4 linked regions of the Homo sapiens genome follow. The protein of the gene in region 3 purifies or fractionates together with the protein of the main gene of each other region. This does not show direct contact. Each region holds a gene or a part of one and is shown on either strand. Other genes may lie near its edges.

The links. Proteins that work in one complex are often made in the same cells at the same time.
Region 1: the proteins of TIPRL (region 3) and CTSC fractionate together in Homo sapiens (co-fractionation; one large-scale study listed by BioGRID). This does not show direct contact.
Region 2: the proteins of TIPRL (region 3) and ZKSCAN1 purify together in Homo sapiens (affinity purification with mass spectrometry, with the first as the bait; one large-scale study listed by BioGRID). This does not show direct contact.
Region 4: the proteins of TIPRL (region 3) and EFL1 fractionate together in Homo sapiens (co-fractionation; one large-scale study listed by BioGRID). This does not show direct contact.

The regions. Positions count from the first base shown.
Region 1 is NC_000011.10:88,296,415-88,299,736, reverse strand, and holds part of CTSC (dipeptidyl peptidase 1 isoform a preproprotein), read left to right. Parts: intron 1-3,322. UniProt on the Homo sapiens protein: Thiol protease. Has dipeptidylpeptidase activity. Active against a broad range of dipeptide substrates composed of both polar and hydrophobic amino acids. Proline cannot occupy the P1 position and arginine cannot occupy the P2 position of the substrate.
Region 2 is NC_000007.14:100,014,264-100,018,395, forward strand, and holds the start of ZKSCAN1 (zinc finger protein with KRAB and SCAN domains 1), read left to right. Parts: upstream 1-1,332; 5' UTR 1,333-1,463; intron 1,464-4,132. UniProt on the Homo sapiens protein: May be involved in transcriptional regulation.
Region 3 is NC_000001.11:168,195,962-168,199,285, reverse strand, and holds part of TIPRL (TIP41-like protein), read right to left. Parts: intron 2,740-3,324; coding exon 2,644-2,739; intron 368-2,643; coding exon 305-367; intron 1-304. UniProt on the Homo sapiens protein: May be a allosteric regulator of serine/threonine-protein phosphatase 2A (PP2A). Isoform 1 inhibits catalytic activity of the PP2A(D) core complex in vitro. The PP2A(C):TIPRL complex does not show phosphatase activity.
Region 4 is NC_000015.10:82,151,235-82,154,734, reverse strand, and holds part of EFL1 (elongation factor-like GTPase 1), read left to right. Parts: intron 1-2,311; coding exon 2,312-3,270; exon of another isoform or gene 3,271-3,284; intron 3,285-3,500. UniProt on the Homo sapiens protein: GTPase involved in the biogenesis of the 60S ribosomal subunit and translational activation of ribosomes.

The DNA.
Region 1 (3,322 bases), on a different chromosome or scaffold from region 3:
AAATAGGTTTAGTATTTGCTGTCTGGAAACATTCTGATTAGTGTCTCCTGGGAGGATTATAAATTTATAGTACCCAAAGATAAACTGTTGTTTCCCTTTCCTAAACTTTTAGTGATAATCAGTCTCTGCCGTGTCTCATTTTCATCACTTGCCCTCCAAGCTCCCATCTCACTGAATTCTTGCAGTGTTCTGAATGTTGAGAGCCCCAAGTGGGTCTTATAACAGCCAGTCAGCAACATTTCTGTTTTTCATCTGACACCAAGGGTCTCGTCTCTTTGCTTTTCTACCAGTTATTCTGGGCTCTTCAGCTCTAAAGAAAGTATAGGTCCTGAAATCTTTCCCTACCTTCTCAATTTCCTGGGGAGGGCTTCTTTGGAAAGTGGGATTGGAAATAAGATAAATTTGAAGATAATTGAGAAATGAATGGAAAGTGAAATTGAAGGGTCCATGTTAAGAGATTGCAAGTTATGCTATCACCAAATAGATTTTTTGTGCCTGAGAGGATTAATTCATAGTGCATATTATGTGTTGACTTTATCATTGAGGTCCTGGCACATGATAGCATTGGCATGATATAATTTGAGCTACTGATACTATAGTGTTGCTTCTGGTGTTGTTACCAGAACATCTAAAATATATTAGGATTTTTTTAATGGCAGAGGAAATGAAGACTAATATGACATAGTCCTTGTCCTAGTGATTTACAGTTTAGCAAGACATACAAGCAAAACATTAAAGTAAAGCATGATAACTACTTTAATAAAGCATTTTTTAAATTCATTGGTAACATAAGAGAAGGTAGAAGAGTTTAGCAAACCCTTCCCAAAAGAAATGATTGACAAGTTATATGAGATAATAATTCAGGGAAAGGAAATTCGACTTTCTAAAGCCAAATTATTTGACATTGGTTTTCATATAGCTTGGTAAAAGCTGTTATTTTCTCCCATGTTCTTTATTCTTTGACTGTTATAAGTATGATTTGTACAGAGAAATGGCAATTTCAAAACAGAGGGCTTTGATGGATTAATTGCTTTGAATTGATCCCTCATCTACAGTATCTTGTCAGGTACTTGAGAAAATAATGTACTTAAAGTTTCCTCTTTTGACTTTCTTTTGGTATTCTATACTGTAAGTTGGGGAAAAAAGTATTTTCTCTTCCTGCTAATTGGGCTACTTGAAAATTCCCACCAACTTTGCCAATACCAGTGTTCTGTATAACCCAGAATTCAGAATTAGCTGCAATTAAGGGAATTCACAGCTTTTCTGTAGTCAGAGAGCAAATTGAAATTAAAGAAAAAAGAAATAGTGGGAGGACAAATGAGGTTTTACCTTTACACTTGAAAACAGATTTAAGAACAAGCCTTATACCTAGATTTATTAATACTTTGAGGTATGAGAGGGAAGAGAAGCTTAGAAATACGGCAGAATGGGCTTTCTTTGTTCTTCTCCCAGCTATGCTGTTTTTATTTATTATTGTATTTTTAAGAGAGAAGGGAAGTGTCTCTCCTGGGTCACATTAATTAGGAAATACAGAGTGTTTTCATAATGCGTAAAGTCTAGTCCATTTAAGTCTTGTTTCAAAATGCTATTTATATTATTTGAGCAGGAAGGCAGAGACCTTAAACTGCTCCACCCAATTCATTTTACACAAAAGATTAAAAAGAAAAAAACAGTGTCAAAAGGTCAAGTGCCCAGTGTTGCACAACTAATGATAGGCAAAACAAGAGAGGAGGGGAAAAAAAAGAATCCTGACTCCCGACTCCTAGTTCAGTGTGTTCTTCACTGTTAGAAGGTGCTGCTGAACATAGTTATACCATATGAAGATCACACTATCTATTTGAGATTGTAGAAATTTGATTACTGCAGAGCTCTGGCTGGGCTAGATTCACTTCTTATTCTTTATTGCATTGCAGTATTCTTAAGAGATAAATGGCTCTTTTAGAATCAGATTGGCCTTGGCTGTTGAAATGAGGCATTAATTACCTTGGTAGCTGACACATTCTTACAGGTCAGGGGCTTGATGAAGTTTATCTTCTTCCCTTGTTCCTGTGATTGCTCTGTAAATAGAACACATTCAGAGCCCTTGAATGCACTTGCAGCCTGTGCCTCCCACAGTGATCGATGGTCAGATAATGGGAGTTTAATGACCAGTACTGAGAGAGATTATTTCCATGGCTGCTATGGGCCAAGAAAGCTGGGTGGTCAGAAAGGGACCTTTTCCAGACTCTCCTGGGTTGTGTTATTTCTTTGACATTGGTTTCCTTTCATGAGGCGCCAAGGTGTATTTGTAAGTTGTCCAGTGTTGCACAGCTAATGAGGGGCAAAACAAGAAAGGAGGAAAAAAAAAGTATCCTCACTCCTAGTTCAGTGTGTTCTTCACTGTTGGAAGGTACTGCTGAACACAGTTATATGTTCAGTGTACAATGTACAATGTTCTTTGACATTCCGTCATTTGAAGGATGGGTCCTATGGATAGTATCATCTGCATGGTTTTGAAAACAAAAGATATAAGCTAATTTTGCCCTGTCTAGTGACTACGAGACAGGGAGAGAAAATCTGAATATTTGTTAAAGTAGACACAGACCCATAAATTGAAAAGGACACTAATCCTGCCTTAGGAGACAGTAAGGCACTTGTCCCTGCTATCTATTAGCTGTGTGTCCTTGGACAGCTCATTGCTTCTTTCTGAGCCACCGTTACACGTTATCTATCAAGTGAGCAGGTTGTACACTAGATGAATTCACAGGTCCTTCTTCCAAGTGCTTTTCTAATCTTCATAATTTAGATAATCTCTCAGTAGCAAAACAGTGTACAATATGGTCAATCTGAGATTTTTAGGGGGAGAATTTTAGGGAACATCAGAAATGGCAGTAGTTAAAAGGAAATAGGACTCACAGGCTGACTTCTCTCTATAACTTCACATGGTAGAAGGGATGAGAGTTCTCTCTGGAGCCTTTTGTATTAGGTCACTAATCCCAAAGGCCCCACCTCCTAAGACCATCACTTTTGGGATTGGGGTTTTAACATGATTTTAGAGGGACATAAACCTTCATCTCATTGCATTAGAGATATTTGAAAGCTCAGCTCACGTGTATTCCTCCACAGCTCACATGTATTCCTCCATCACCCAACCTGATGGCTTTGAACGTTGTAGACATAAATCCTTTCATCATTATCAAGAATATTGCCAAAAGCTTCTCAGAAATTATGAGGGGTTTTTTTAGTTTCTAAAATATTCTCAAAGAAAGTCCCATGTACTAATGTTTGCCTTTTGATGAAAAAGGATGAAATCTTAATGATTGCCTTAATAAGCTCAACAATG
Region 2 (4,132 bases), on a different chromosome or scaffold from region 3:
CCACTGGCACACACTACCCTGCACCCAGCTAATTTTAGTATTTTTTGTAGAGAGAGGGTCTCATTACGTTGCTTAGGCTGGTCTCCAACTCTTGGGCTCAAGAATCCTCCCGTCCCAGCCTCCCGAAGTGCTAAGATTACAGGCTTGAGTCATCGTGTCTGGCCCTGTCATTGCTTTTTAGTTTTCAAACATTTTTTAAAAAGTAAATCTGGCCGGGCACGGTGGCTCACGCCTGTAATTCCAGCACTTTGGGAGGCTGAGGCGGGTGGATCACAAGGTCAGTAGATCGAGACCATCCTGGCCAATATGGTGAAACCCTGTTCTCTACCAAAAATACAAAAATTAACCAGGCATGGTGGTGTGCGCCTGTAGTCCCAGGTACTCAGGAGGCTAAGGCAGGAGAATCGCTTGAACCTGGGAGGTGGAGGTTGCAGTGAGCCAAGATGGTGCCACTGCACTGCAGGCTGGGTGACAGAGCGAGACTCCATCTAAAAAAAAAAAGTAAATCTCTCCAAGCAGTAAGAGTCATGCAACCAAGCTACTGAGTTTCTCCCATGAACTTGTCTCGGAACATAGTGGAAAGTCACAACCATTAAAGCCTGTAGTCCCCCCCACCCTTGCACAACGTGGCCCCCTCTTATGCGTGCCTTACCCTGCAAGGCAAAGATGAAGGCTGTAACTGTGGTAGGTTGTGAAAGCACTTTGAAGGTAAAAGTGTCTGTTGTTACTCTGAAAACTCCTTTTAAACGGCTATAATAGCATATGCCACATGAGCAAAGCACAGAACCTTATAACTATGCTTGCTTGTGGAAAGACATCCCTTGTCCACGGGCCAAGTATTTGAAAATACCACTCCATATAGCTCCAGGGCCCTGAGAGAAGCTACCGTGGCAGCTTTGGGAAACCAGCCACCCTTGGCTTCACTTTGATCTTCCTCAGTCTACATCCTTGTTTCAGTTCCTTTGCCACAGACATACAATTACCAAGTACTATATTGCTTGATAATAACTATAATTACTACAAGGACTGCCTGAGATGAAAAAGACAGGTGAAATCGAACTTTCACATGGACTGGTGTCTGAGCTGGAGAGTCTGTTTGAGTTTGAGTAGGGGAAAGCCTGAAACCCCCCACCACCTGCTCCCGTTAGTCCCTGCATTAACTAGGGGCGGACTGGGACCTGATCCTCCAAGCTGGAGGCTTGAAAACTCAAGGGCAGGCGCCTGGTCCAGCGATTCGGAAACCGAGATGCAAAGTCCTCCCGCGCTCCTAGAGAGGACCCGGAAGCGCGGCGCGGTCCCGGAAGACGAGGTGGTGACACGCTTCCGGCCTTTGTGACTCATTGTGTCTGTGTCGAGGCGTCGGGAGGGCCTAAGTCCGTGTGCGGTGCCCTTCGGCCGGCCTGAGCCCCAGAGTCAGCTCCCCTTTCTCGCCCAGCGCCCCCAGGCCGCTCCCGGGGCTCACGGTGAGACTTGGGGCCGGCCTCTGGGGTGGGAGGGCGGGGCCGCAAGGGTGTGTGCGCGAGGGTGGGCTCCGCAGCTGCGGCCCTGGGACCCCCTCCAGGCGGCCCCGCTGTTGTGCGAAGAGAGTCCATGCCCCTGCCTCCTGGCCGGGCCCGGCCGTAGAAAGCGCCGTTCTTCCTGGGAGACGTCCCCGCCCCACCCCCAGGATCAGGCGGGGAGGGGGCGAGGGTTTCAGTGGCTGAGGGTGCCCGGAGACCCGGGGAGAAGCCGTCTGTGGGCCCCTCTCCCGCAGTGTCGTCATCGCCCTTTGACGTTTCTGCAAACGGGGTCGCGAGCGAACCGACCCCGGTCTTGATTTTTCTGCTCTCCCTTAGTCGCCATTTGCTTTGATTCCGGTGAGGTGTCTTTTTCCCCCCCCGGTTCCTTCGGGACCTCGAGGTGAAATGAGCGGAAGGATGAGAGATGGACACATTTTGAGGTGCCGCATACGTTTCCAGACCTGCCTTTCCTTCTCCCACCCTCATCACTGAGCGGTGATTAAAGAGTATTTGAAGCCTAGTCATAGTGGATAAATAGGTGATTGGGATCTAGTAGAGATTATATACACCCCACTCTTTCAGCTTGATGGAATGCTTTGAAGGCTTTGGAAAAGAGCTGTCCGGGACGTTAGGTGGATTTTTCAATTCTGGATAGTTGCTCTGTTTGACATGGAGTGGGGTGAGAAGTGAAGGGAATTTGTGGAAATTGCACTGTGTCACTAGGAGACTGATTAGCTGAGTGACCTTGGATAAGACGAGACACTCACCAAGTCTTAATTTCGTCATCAATAAAAACTAACTGGATTTTCTCAAAAGGCCCTTCCGACTTCGAAATGATTTGGTCAATGTAATTGAAGAATTAACTACAGTTTAGCTTGACACTCCTCCATCCCTCCCCTCCCTTTCCTGCAGTGCCCCCTGTACACAGTAAGATACTTTCATTATAGAGAGTGGCTGTTCCATGGCCTGGGACCAAAGAAAGCATTTATTGTACGGGCCAGTGCTAGGCGGATTGGAGGCGGTCAATAAATACTTGTTGAATTGAATTGTGGAGAATTCATTGTAACCACATCAGCAAAGCACTGTTAGTATATATGCTGAACAAATGTGGAGAAATCGCTGTTTTACATAGGAAACCATGGTGATTTGCCCCAGAATGTGTATCCAGGTTTGTATCTTCTCTGAATTAACATATAAGATTCTTGTTTATTATTTCAGGCAGTTTTCACCACTCTTAAAATACAAACGAGGAAGCTAGCTACTTAGTCTTTTGCTCATTCTCGATTTAAAAGCATTTAAAATACAGATGAATAGCATATTAAATCTAACATTTTCATTCTGTGGGAGTATCAATATTCTTTGAATAGCTAGCTGTCTTTTAAGGTAGCTTTTTCATATTAAAACATTTGATTGCTCTTTAAAAAAATGAGTGTAAAGGGCAAAGGGCAATTTATTTAAAAAAAAATTTTTTTTTTTTTGAGACAGAGTCTTGCTCTGTCGCCCAGGCTGGAGTGCAGTGGTGCGATCTCGGCTTACTGCAACCTCTGCCTCCCGAGTTCAAGCGATCCTCCTGCCTCCGCCTCCCGAATAGCTGGGACTACAGGCATGTGTCCCAAGGCTTGGCTGATTTTTGTATTTTTAGTAGAGACAGAGTTTCGCCATGTTGGCCAGGCTGGTCTCGAACGCCTGATCTCAGGCAGTCCGCCAACCTCAGCCTCCCAAAGTGCTGGGATTACGGGCGTGAGCCACTGTGTGCCCAGCCTTTGTTTACATTTTCAAGACTATGCCCTGGAAAAATACTGGGCTGTTTGGAACACAGCCTTTGAGCTTGTAACTTCAAGCCGTTGTTTAAGAAAATCATTTCTGTTTATCCTAGGTGAGAACTGAGGTATCCTTAGCTGCTGGAGGTAATTTTATTTAAAGTGGATGGTATGTCAGTATGTTTTTCAGCCCATATTCACCCAGAGGTAGTTTCCTACTATCTGGAACCCCCACCCTACCCCCATTTGACTGATAAAGATACAAAATGCCAGAGAAGTTAAATACCTCTCTCAGGGATGTGCCACTTACTTGTGGGAGACTAGAATTCAGTTATTGCCTGTGCAGCTTTCACTATTACAGGAGTTGTCCCATTGCTTAATCTTCTAAGCAGGCTGAAAATTGGAATGTACAGTTACATCTTTTAAGCTTATTGAAAAAAATTAAGACATTTCTGTAGTGCCTACTAAATGCCAGGCACTATTTTAAGTGCTTTATATCTATTACCTCATTTAATCCTCACGGCAACTCTATGGGACAAATGCTGATTTTTATTCCCATTATACAGATGAGGAAACTGACGCATAGAGAGGTTAACTTGTTGACTTGCCTAAGGCCGTCAACTAGTAAGGGGTGGAGCAGCTTTAATGCTAACCTGAAACTCATCCAACTAGTCCATGGAACAAATTTGAGTGCAACATTGAATGTAGAATGATCGGGCTTTTAAAAAATAGTAACGTTGTCAATTCAGTCAAGTGTATTTTTGAAACTGAGGCTTGCAAGGAATCATGCTAAGTGGTCTAAGGAGTACAAAGAGGACTGCTCTTAATAATCTAGTTGAGGAAGAAGGCAAGAAAAATTACAGAGAAAGAAAC
Region 3 (3,324 bases):
ACATCCATCACCAGCCAGCTATGTGACTCAGAGTAAGTCACACCTCTGGGTTTCAATTTCTCTAGAACAAAATGTGAAAATTAGATTAGATGAGGCTTAAGTACCTAGCAGCTCTAAATGTTCTTGTATTTGAGGTAAGGTCAGAAAAGTTATGCTCCCATAGAATTTATCCTATAGAGCCCCATTAGGTGAATGAATGGGTTTAGGGATGTAAACTTGGGTGGTTGGGGTCAGGGGTATATGCTACTTAAATTAAAATGAAACATTAAAATTAACTTCTAAAAACTGAAATTTAAGTACTTGCCATCAAACTAGAAATTTTGCTTTCTCGTGACGTATATTCTCGTAACATGTAGGTCTTGTCAGCCTGTATTTAAAAATAAACAGTTGCAATAAATTTAATTATACTGATTTACAAAATCCTTTGTATTAAAAACAGACTGCCTACATTTTAGGATAGGTTGTCAAAACAGCATGCAGTCTAAAGAGAACATCTTGTTCTACACTGAGATAACTCCTATTTAACTCAAATTGGATTATTATTTCCAATTTCTATACATTATAATGATGATACACATATGTAAACAGATTTTATAATTACCATGTAAGAGAAACATAGCAAAGATTTTACTTTGAAAGAATATGTATATAAATGAATAATGTATATAATGAATTTGTATAAATGAAATATGCAAGAGATTTTAAAATTACTTCAAGTTTGAAACATCTTTCCCTTAAGCTATCTTATCATTTACCTACGTAATTGTGCTACTTTTATGTTGCAAAACATGCTTTAAAATTTTTATTCTTTCCCATTCCATAAAGCTCTTACCAAATAGCTTACTTAAAATCACCTTTTTTGTACTTCAATTTTTCCCATTTAAGATTTTTGGTTAGGTTTTAGAACAGCAACTTATTATAATTTACTTCTTGAAACACTTTTCAATAAAAGAAAAGCCACAAAATTATATGCCTTTAAGGTTTCACTCTCTTGTATTAATAAAAACAGATTAATAGTCACTGTAGGAAAAAAATCAAATAATATAAAAGTATAAATCATCAGTGATCACAGCTTATAGGTAACACTATCTTTAATACTTAGAAATCTCTACAGAGAATCTTATGTAAGTAGATTCATACTTGCTTTTGAAAGTTCAACACTGAAATGAATATCTTTCAAAATTACTTAAATATCAATCTCTGCAACCAATTTTAATAATTATATATTTTATACCATATGGATATAAACAATTTAATTAATGGCCATTTAATGGGCATTAAGTTCCTACTTTCCTTCCTTTCTGCTATTATAAACAATACTACTGTGAATATTCATGTACGTATAACTCTGAGTAATTGCCCAATTAATATTAGTAGATTATTATATAAAAGAATCTTTTTAGGATAAATTCCTAAAATTCAATATTGTTTAATTAAAACAGTATTTTTAACATTTAGGCCAGGAGCGGTGTGGCTCACGCCTATAATCCCAGCACTTTGGGAGGCCGAGGCAATTGGATCACTTGAGGTCAGGAGTTCAAGACCGGCCTGGCCAACATGGTGAAACCCCATCACTCCATTAAAAACAACAACAACAAAATTGCCAGGTGTGGTGGTGGGCGCCTGTAATCCCAGCTACTAGGGAGGCTGAGACATGAGAATTGCTTGAACTCAGGAAGCAGAGGTTGCAGTGAGCCAAGATCGCGCCACTGCATTCCAGCCTGGGCAACAGAGCAAGACTCCATCCATCTCAAATAAATAAATAAAAATAAAATTTAGATTTCTCTTTCTGGGGAACAAAAATATAGCTTATGTTTAGTACTTTGCCACCACTTTTAAAAGAAAAAAGGTCTATCACTATAACCATGTTATTTCAAGAAAAAATCCCTAAGTGAAGGGTTTAGAAAGCATCAATCCAATCCTATCCTACTAGGTTCAAATTCCAATTCTGCCACCTACTAACTGTATAACTTAGGTATGTTTCTTTTTTTTTTTTTTCTTTGAGACAGGGTCTTGCTCTGTCACTGCAGCCTCAACCTTCACCAGCTCAAGCAATCCTCCCACCTCAGCCTCCCAAGTAGCAGCTAGGACTACAAGTCCGTGCCACCATGCCTGGCTAATTTTTTGTATTTTTAGTAGAGACAGGGTTTCACCATGTTGGCCAGGCTGGTCTCGAACTCCTGATCTCAGGTGATCTACCCACCTCGGCCTCCCAAAGTGCCGGGATTACAGGCGTGAGCTACGGCGCCCGGCCTTGGCCTGATTAATATATTAATGTACTTCCTGTATATTAATGTACATCAGGACATTACATAAACAACATATACTGTAAACAAAGGTAAGAGTTAAAGGACAGTTTTCTTAAACATGGATTAAGTACATACAAAATTGTCTCAAAAGACCCCTCCCCAATTAGGGAGTGTCTTTTAGAAAACATTTTGAGTCACCAGAACCTTTGTAAAAGGAAATGTAATGTTTTGATGATAGCCTGCAGTCAACAGTGAATGTGAAACACTCAGACTTAACAGTTAGAAAGACTGCCATATAATATAGATTGTTTAATTTCAAATTCTCAGATTGACAATTAAACAACACAAACAAGCCCAGTATCAATTAGTATATTCATTAAACAACAATAAATACCTCATGGTAAAGTCTCGTGTCATTCATTCTGATAAGCACCCCATCAATTCTCAAGAAAAACCGCAACAGCAGGAAAAAGCTAGAAGGCATTACTCTCTGGAAAAAAAAAAAAAGGTACATTAATATTTTAATAAAAATTAAACATTTTATTACTTTGCTGAAAGAAAAAATTTGAAAACAAAAAACAAAAAAACCCTGGAATAAGGCTGAATTCACAGTTTATAAAAATCTCTCAACTAGAAGCTCTTTGTCCTAGCTCCAACTAGCCTCAAAACCTTGTGCAAACTATTTAACATCATAGTTTCGGTTTCCTAAAATATTTTTTCTAGGTGAGGAGATATTGAGGTTTAAAAGACTTAAAAACATACCCAAGTAATGTAAAAATTATAATGTTTATTTCAAAAAATGGCAGGTACTGATAGTAAATGTCAACACCAATAAAACCAAAATGAAAGAACAACCTAGTTCTTTGTCACTACTCACCTATTCACTTTACATAAAACAAAGCAACAGACCTTACACAGAATGCTCTAATTCAGTGCAACCTGTAGGCACTATTACATATTGCTAAAGACCTGGTTTATCAGAACACTATAACACATTCTTAACATCTTTCATCTGTGGCACATCTACAAATTCCTCTGCTTTCCAAGTATAACTACTAATGATAGGCAGAATCAG
Region 4 (3,500 bases), on a different chromosome or scaffold from region 3:
ATAAGGGGTTACATGGTTAGGTGATTTAAAAAAAATGGAGGCTATTACAATAAAAATCAGGATAGCAGTTACCTTCATACTTAATGGCATTGGGGCCCTCTGAGGGCTAAGACTGTTCTGTTTCTTGACTATACCATGTAGTTTACATGGGTGTTCACTTTGAGGTAAGTTATCATAGATCAGTAGATTTTTGTTTTGTGCACTGTTCTATATGACTATTACATTTCACAATTATGCTTACATTAAGAATGTGTATAATGTTATAGAATTTGTTTAGTTCTCATAGGACAGAGCCTACCTTTTGGTAGTATATAATCTTTTTCAACTTCTACACACATCTTCAGGAATGGATTATGTCCAGGAATGGGAGACAAGGAGACTATATTGTCTCCAGGCCAGAGAAACTGTCAGAATTCTTAGCATCCAGATCTCAAGGTAGTAATAATCAGAGCAGGAAGCCACAGGAAATTGCCATGATGTAGCCTGAGCCTACCGCACTTTTTTTAGTGTCATCACAGGCTCTGCATTGCTAGGACTTAAAGAACCTTTGGTCCTGAGGTGCTTTGTGAGTGTGGCAACCATCACACACTTCCTTCCACAGCTTGGAGTGGTTTTAATTAATCATATAAATGATTACTACAGGAGACTTCTTGGGAGCCTCAGGAATTAGAAGGACTAAAGTGGCTCATAGCTCTTTTGACTATGTTACAGGAATAAGAGGGCAGTGTTGTAGATGTGTTCTCTCTCGTAGTTTCAGAAGCTTTGCCGTTGGTTTTCTTGAGTGTTCTAAGTATATGAGCATATTTTTCTCTATGTAATGATAATTTTAGAAATATTTTCCTATTCCTAAGATTTTTAAGTGGCTTTTTTCTTAAAATCAAGAATAGGTATTGAATCTTATTGAATGCCAATTTAGCATATTTAAAAGTGGCTACATAGATTATTTGATATTTTTAATGTGGTATTAACAGATCTAATACAAATTAATTTTCATATAACCTATAATACAAACTTCGTAGTGTTGTAGTAAATTATTCCTTTAATGTACTGAGTAACTTCATTTTTCAGTATAGCATAATGACTGAGAGTGTGAATTCTGAAGTCAGACCTAAATTTGAATCCTAGCTTCTTCACTTACAGACTATTTGGAGAAATTACTTAATCTTTCTTATCTGGTTTTCTCTTCTACAAAATTAGATAGTACTAGTGCCTACTAAAGAAATACTACATGTAAAACACTTAACACAGTGCCTCATACATAATAAGTTTTTTTTTAATGCACACACCTGCATATCCATAGTTTTTGTTATTTTATCTTAGATTTTATATCTGAATTCTTAGGTAAGATTGAACTGCAGTTTTGTGTATATATACTGTCTTTGTCAGGTTTGAATATCAAAGTAGTTTTAAAAACATACAATGTCGGGTCCATCTTGTTGTATATCCTGTGAATATACAAAAAGATTGTAAATATACAATATACAACAATATCAAATTTGATATTATGTGGGAAAAGGGGCTTTCTGAACTTGGTGGCAGACTGGGGCTCAAGACCTATGATGTCCAGAAGAGTAGCTTCTACCCACATGCAGCTGTTTAAAATCAAATACAATTAAAAATTTAGTTCCTCAGTCATACTAGCCGCATTTCAAATGCTTAGTAGCTATATGTGTCTATTTAAATTTAAATAAAATTAAAAATTTATTCAGCTGTACTAGCCACATTTCAAGGGCTCAGCAATCACAATAAACATATAGAACATTTCCACCATTGCAGAAAGTTCTTTTGGAAAGTGCTGCTCTAGACAAACTCATGGATCATGCTAGCCTTGCTATAAGCCTCATTATCAAAGCCAAATACATTGTGAAGATTTGACTAGCTATCCTGAGGTTCTGTGATTCTATGTCTATTTAGAGTTTTAATCATTGAGCTTTTCTTCTCCACACTCTTAGATGGGCAAATACTGTTTTAAAGCATTCATATTTCATATATTAAAACATTTATTTTCTGCTCAAAACATTCTTATCTAAATGGGTGGTTTATATATCTTGAAAATGAAAAAAAAAAAAGTGAAATTCCAGTACATGCAAGGATTTCCCTGGAGGTATATTCCCATTAGAAGTAGTCTTTTCAATCAGAAAGAAAGCAGTTTTTGAATGTTATATAATGTAAATTGCAGATCTTTCATAGTAAGATAATTTTTATGTTCCTATGTTTTTACAGAATCTCCACTGTGTAGTAATTTCTACACAGGAGCTTTGATGCTATTTTGATTTTAACCTTCTGTTATTTCTCTTGAATTTGTCTGTAGGTTTGCAAAGATTCATATCAGTGTATCTGAACCTATTATTCCATTCAGAGAAACAATCACAAAACCCCCAAAAGTTGACATGGTCAATGAAGAAATAGGCAAACAGCAAAAAGTTGCAGTCATACACCAAATGAAAGAAGATCAAAGCAAAATCCCTGAAGGAATCCAAGTTGACTCTGACGGGCTAATCACCATAACAACTCCCAATAAACTTGCCACGCTCAGTGTTCGAGCCATGCCCCTTCCAGAAGAAGTCACCCAGATTCTGGAAGAAAATAGTGATTTGATTCGTTCTATGGAGCAGTTGACATCCTCTTTGAATGAGGGTGAAAATACTCACATGATTCATCAGAAGACCCAAGAGAAAATTTGGGAATTCAAAGGAAAACTGGAGCAACACCTAACAGGGAGAAGATGGAGGAACATTGTTGACCAAATCTGGTCATTTGGCCCAAGAAAATGTGGGCCCAACATACTAGTCAATAAAAGTGAAGATTTTCAGAACTCAGTATGGACAGGTCCAGCTGACAAAGCTTCAAAAGAAGCCAGTAGATACCGAGATTTGGGCAATAGCATTGTGAGTGGCTTCCAACTAGCAACCCTCTCTGGCCCCATGTGTGAGGAGCCTCTCATGGGTGTCTGTTTTGTTCTGGAAAAATGGGACCTAAGTAAATTTGAGGAACAAGGAGCAAGTGATCTGGCAAAAGAGGGACAGGAGGAAAATGAAACCTGTTCTGGTGGAAATGAAAACCAAGAGCTACAAGATGGCTGCTCTGAGGCCTTTGAGAAGAGGACATCACAGAAAGGAGAATCTCCACTCACTGACTGCTATGGACCTTTCTCAGGACAGCTAATTGCCACCATGAAAGAAGCATGTCGCTATGCACTGCAAGTGAAACCTCAGCGCCTGATGGCAGCTATGTACACATGTGACATCATGGCCACTGGTGATGTTCTCGGTAAGGAAGAAAAGGTAAAGATAGTGAGAAATGCCCTGAATAACAGTGAAGTCTCCTAGACTCAAAATCTTGTTTTTGAGACAGGGTCTCATTCTGTCGCCCCAGCTGGAGTGCAGTGGCACAATCTCGGCTCACTGCAACCTCTGCCTACCAGGCTCAAGCAATCCTCTCACCTCAGCCTCTCAAGTAGTTGTGACTACAGGCACACACCACCATGTGCAGCTAAGTTT